2 separate regions of the Homo sapiens genome follow, and region 2 is linked to region 1. Evidence: fine-mapped expression QTL. Tissue or cell type: cerebellar hemisphere. Region 1 holds a variant in brackets; the other region holds the start of a gene. All regions are shown on one strand. Distances are between the middles of the regions.

The links. PIP is the estimated chance that this variant, and not a neighbour inherited with it, causes the effect.
Region 2: it holds the start of TNS3, and the variant in region 1 is fine-mapped to the expression of TNS3 in cerebellar hemisphere (GTEx, PIP 0.98).

The regions. Positions count from the first base shown.
Region 1 is chr7:47,275,426-47,278,178 of GRCh38, forward strand. TNS3 (tensin 3) reads right to left here. Exons shown (of 31, transcript NM_022748.12): 31 at 1-2,753. The coding sequence ends at 2,651. Among named protein-coding and RNA genes, the nearest start is that of SNORD151, 190 kb to the right of the region's middle. The variant C/G (reference allele first, on the strand shown) is at 1,422.
Region 2 is chr7:47,580,731-47,583,483 of GRCh38, forward strand. TNS3 (tensin 3) reads right to left here and starts at 1,381. Exons shown (of 31, transcript NM_022748.12): 1 at 1,321-1,381. RefSeq lists enhancers at 717-1,254, 1,255-1,792.

The DNA.
Region 1 (2,753 bases):
CTGGCTATAACATGCGTTGGGCACAGTTCGTGAACTCTCCGCATTTACTCCCCAGGGCAGTACGTGCCTGTCCAGCGGGAGCCCTGGAGACAAAATGCCTGGAAACGTTCCTTTTCCTGTGGCCCTAGAGCCGGTGTCCACGGTGGGGGCTCTCTCACGGTTTCTGAGCCCACAGTACAATCTGTGATGACACACAGCTTGTTCTGTTTAATGCACATGTAACACAAAAGGAAGAAAGAAACTTCCTATACCAGCTCTTCAGAAATCGTGGAAACTTGCTTCCTTTGGTTCCTCAGAGGGAGCTATCTGCTTGGAGCAAATTCCCCGATGCCCTTGACCACGTTTACCTTGTGTAAAAATCACACCTGGCCAATGAGTTCAAAAAGCACGTTTGCAGGGCTTCCTGAATGCCGTCGAGGCATGGCTTCATGAGGGCCATCGCGGGCACCCCGATGTCTCTGTGATTCCCTGGCAGGCTGCGTTTCTCAATACTGAGACCCTAGTTTGCTCTGACTTCTAAATGAGCTCTCTCATCCTTCATCAGAAGGATAAGGAACCTGGCCTGCACTCTTTGGGTTAAACATGGGTAGAGACCGTCTCAGGATGAGGACCTCTTGGGGAAAGTACAAACCTCTGCTCCCTGTGGCCACATTCCTGCAGTGGATGAAAAACCGAGATGCTAGAGGCCTCTGCTAAAGACATCAGGGTCAACACATGAGGATCTGCTGAAAATGCCAGCACCTCCTGACAGTCATGCCACCGCAAGTTAGAGAAGGAGGTCCACAACGACCAAGGCAAACATTTGGCACAGAAATGAGGCACTTGGTTTGGTGCATCAATAGGAGCTAAAAAGTGGAATGGTCCACCTGCTTTCACACACGCATACACGCACGCATGCACACACGCACACACACACAACACCCACTGTGATTTGGCTGCTTCCAACTCTGCCTGTTTCTAAGTTTTCCTCGGCCCCTCACTTTAAAGCAGAGTTCACAAAGCACATTCCCAAACCCCAGCTCCCTGACAGGAGCTTGTGACACCAGTGTGGCCTAAGAATGGGGGATTTGACTTTTGAAAGCAGAGGAGGGAATTTCGGGCTGGATCGCAATCAGGACAGTCAGCATGCCTGCAGAGCACCTAGGCTGTGAGAGGATGGGGCCAAGGCCTTATTCTGATGTGGCCCAGCTCCATCTTTCACTCTGGGGATGTTCCAGGGTCACAAATTCCCCCAAACCTTTGACCACGAACAGATTCAAGCAGGAAAACCAGGGCATTGGAATGTTGAAATAAGCCTGAAATACACTTGATTCAGTGGCTTAGATGATGGCAAACAGTGGCACTCAAAAACAGCTTGTCAGTACCGGGGTTTCTTCTCTTTTTCCTCATCCTCCCTTCTGCTCACACATGCCACAACCACA[C/G]ATGGTCCCCAGCAGGAACCCCAAGGTGGCAAGGAGCAGCACAAAGAGGGCTGATAAATGCAGGCGAACTTCAGGTCGTGCAGCTTCAGGCCTGAAGATGATCGAAAAGCCCATGTGGGGGATGCTGAGCTTAAATCCAGGAGTTTTCCATCCCTCCTGGACTCTCTCCATCAGAAAAGAAGTCATCCACAATCGGGGAAAAACATTCCAATGAGTAAAACATCAGGGTAGGTTGCTTGAGGCAAAGCCACCTTTGGGCGGCACCGCATATGGGAGACCCACAGTCCACTGCACACTCTTTCAGTGGCCAGGGGCCTGCGGTGCATCCTACATAGGGACAAGCCTCACAAAATCACAGCTTGGCAGGCTGCAGCATTTGACACTGGTACAGTATAGCAATGGCAAATTATCATAAATAATTTGGCATAAGTAAAATATAAATTACATAGAAATAATATTTTTGTTCCTTCTTCTCATTTCTCCTCTCGGTCCTCACAGGCTCTCCCCAGCCCAGCTCGCCCAGCTCGCCCAGCTCGCCCAGCTCACCACAGGTGAGCAGGAGGCACAGAGCACTCACCATGGTGGGGTGGCATGGGGTCTCCAACGTGGCCAATTCTTCCCACCACCCCCATCCTCACAGCCCATCGCAAAGGCCCCTCGTTGTAGGCCCTGCTGTGTTCCAGAAGGGCCTGACTTGCACAAACCTTCGTCAAACATACGCCCCCTTCTCAGTTTCGTTAGCATCTCCATCTTGGGAAGACCGAGGTGAGGGAAACCCCCGGCCTCGGGTGCAGCTGGACAGAAGCGCCCATGCGGACGGGCGAAGCATGGCAGTCACTCGGCACCTCTGCCTCAAGGGCTGGGGATTCCTCATCCCCCGGAATGCTAGTGTGCCAGGGACATGGGGACCACCTCGTGTTCTGTGCTGTTTCCTTGCATGTCCCTTTCCCATGGGGACCCTAGGGGGTGGGGTGCACCCATGCCCAGCTTCTTCTACCCAAAAAGCATGTGGCTACAGAGATGTGTCAGATAAGTCACTTTCAGGAAAGGCCAATTCACGGTGATGTTGTTTGTTCTTGTTTTTGCAGAGCTGGAAGATCCTCTTTCCCCTCATGGGCCTGGAATGTCAGGTTTACTAGTTTGGTAAAAAGTGGGGGCCCCACCCTCACCCAACGGCTGTCTCCAGGGCTTCGAGAGGCATCGGTGGGTCCAGGGAGGGAGGGGAGTTCTCAGACCTTCTTTGGGGAACCAATCATGACCTTTGATACGAAGTTGACAATGGCACTGGCAGGCTGCTCAGGGTCATGCTCTGCAAACAGGTGGCACACATTA
Region 2 (2,753 bases), 310 kb after region 1:
AACCTCATTCAAAAGGGAAAGCATGAAAGCAATTTAAAAAATTAATATGCACAGACCAAAGCCTCAAGAAAATCTAAAATGTCAAAGGGTTGGTTAGTTCAGAAGGGCCATGCAATATTAATACAATGAGTTCTGCATTCATACTTTTCAGTATATTTTCAGAGTCCTCCATGATCATGCATTCAAATAGTGAAAAAAATGGGGGGAAAGCCAACCCGGAAGATCAAAGTGTGTGAATGCGCCCCAAGGAAGCCTGGGGGCTTCCCAGGGGGTTGTGACCACCCTCAGTAGTGCTCTCTGCTGGCCCCACACCCTGATGGCGCTTTGAGTTTTTCAACCACGCTGGAGTTCGGGTCATCTGCTGACACTGTCTGGAGAATGCCTGAGGAACGCCTGAATCTCTTCCCGCCACAGACACTCAAATCACTCCAAGCAAAGGACCCGGGACTCACATGTCAGGCCGCTGCACAGCACCGACACAGAGACCCCTGGGCCGTCCGGGACCCTCCCTCCTCCTGCTTGTCAGCGACAGCTCCCGCGTGCCAGGAGGCACATGCCACACAGCTGGCCCCCAGCCTGGGACAGCACCCCCCACCCCAGAATATCCCCCCACCCCGAGGTCCCGTCCTTCAGGGAAAAAAAGGAAGCGCGTAAAGACCCCCTGCCTCCCACCCACCAAAGGGAAAGGGAAAGAGACGCACTGGAGAGCTTGCCTAGAAAAAGTAGGAGAAGGGTCTTGAGCCTGCCCATTGAAGCCCCTAGCTGCGCTCTCCACCTGGAGTCTCGAGACGGAGTCCTAGGGAGCAAAGTCCGCTCGGTCCCGACAGCGACTGCGACATAGCTGCTCCGGTCTCTGCCCTCAGTCCAGGGCGCCCGGGCGCCACGGGTCCCACTCGAGTGGTCCTGCGCCCCAGCCAGTCCCCAAACCCAGCCAGTCAGCGCCCCCGTCCCCGGACTCCGGCGAAGCTGGCCCGCGCCCCAGCCCCTGTCCTGGGACTCCTGCCGAGCCCCCGCCCCCCACGCGCCGCAAACCCCGTACCCGCGCGCACCAAACCCCTTGCCCGTGCGCCCCCAACCGGGTCCCCGCGCTCCCTAACCTGGGTTCTCCCGTGACCCCATCCCCGCGCCCTGAGCTCCCGTACCCCGCGCTCCCCGAACTCTGTCTCCGCGCTCCCCGAACTCAGTCCCCGCGCCCCAGCTCCAGATCTCTGTGCTCCCCAAGCCTCGTTCCTGCGCCCGGAGCGCGAAAGCCCGCGCCGGGCCCGAAACAAAGAGGACCGCGGCGCGTGGCCGCGTTTCCTCCTTCCCCGGCCCCAGTACCTGGGGGAGCCTGAGGCGCGGTCCGGCAGGGCGATGGCCGCAACGAGGCTGGGCTCCGAGTAGCGCGCGGGCGGGCCCGTCCTCCTGGCTGGCTGCCGGCGCCCGCGGCAGGGCCCCCTCGAGGCGGCGCGGGCAATCGCCACGGCCGGCCCCCGCGCCCGCGCCCCGAGCCTGGCGGGTCACCTGGCCTCATCACCCTAACAATGCAGCGCGCCTCCAGGCGCCCTTCACCGGGGTCCCCCGCCCTGCCGAGGTGCGCCCTGGGACCTCCCTTCGCTGGCCGCAGAGAGGACCTGGAATTATCAGACCCATTGAGCAGCCCAGGCTCCAAGTGGTCTGGAGGCTTGCAGGTTCCGCCGGGCCGGTGTTAGAGTACCTGGGGAGGCGGGTTCGGATCCTGGTTCCTGCACAACCAGTTCATTCTTTCATTCAGCGCCTGTGATTAAGGTGCTCTCCGGGAGCAAGACCTACCCTCCCTCCTGTAGCTCATAGCCTAGTGGGAGTCGCGCATACATAAAGGAGCACAGCCGCTCCGGAAAGCCTAGGGTGCCGTAGAAGCCCCTGAAATACCCAGCTAATGAAGGGAGGAGGTCAGGGAAGTCTTTAGAAGTCACATGACTTCTTAAAATGCGCCGGGACAAATGAGCAGAATTTAGGCAAGCCAGGGGAAACCAGAAAAACGATCCCGAGCAGAGAGATTCTCAGAGGAGGAAAGGCCTATAGGTTGTCCATCCTGACTGTCCATCCCTGAGATTCAGATGGCCCTGAACTCAGTCGCTTAGCCTCAGTTTCCCCATTTGTGAGATCGGGGGAATGGAAAAAGTTTGCAGAAATCAGAAGTGCTCTTCCTCCAGGGAGGTCACAAGAGAAATTTCATCAGCGGTTTGTCCTGTGGTCCTTTCCAGGAAAACATCCTCCCCGCCAGCCTCTCACAGAAGAGACCTAGATTTCATCTGCCACGTGGAGCAGGCGGTCTCAGAATCCCACCCGGAGCAGGGTCCAGGGCAAGTCTTGGAGGACAGTCACCAAGAACTGCTTTGGATTCGGGAACAGAGCTGCCTAACCCATCCGCAGCCCTGGGGTCCTGCCCTGTTCCTCTGGCCCCTTCAGGGCAGCGGGGGAAGCAGGGAAAACAGCCTGTCAGAGATGGCAGAGAAACCGAGCAAGAATAATTATCCTGGAAAAGACTTTCAGAAGTAACCACCAGAAACTTCGAGTCCCCAGATCCAAACAGCTGAGAATGTGGGGCCTGAGCCACGCTCTGACTCCACTCCCACCACATGAGGAGAAACAAGAGCTGCTTTTCTGGAAGACTTGAACAACCCCTGCTGTGCTCTGGAAGGTAGTGTCATTTCTCATCCCCAGACTGATCTGGGTATTTATTCCCAGGCAAAGGCTTCATGAGCACCATGCCCCAGCCCCTAGAGATGAGG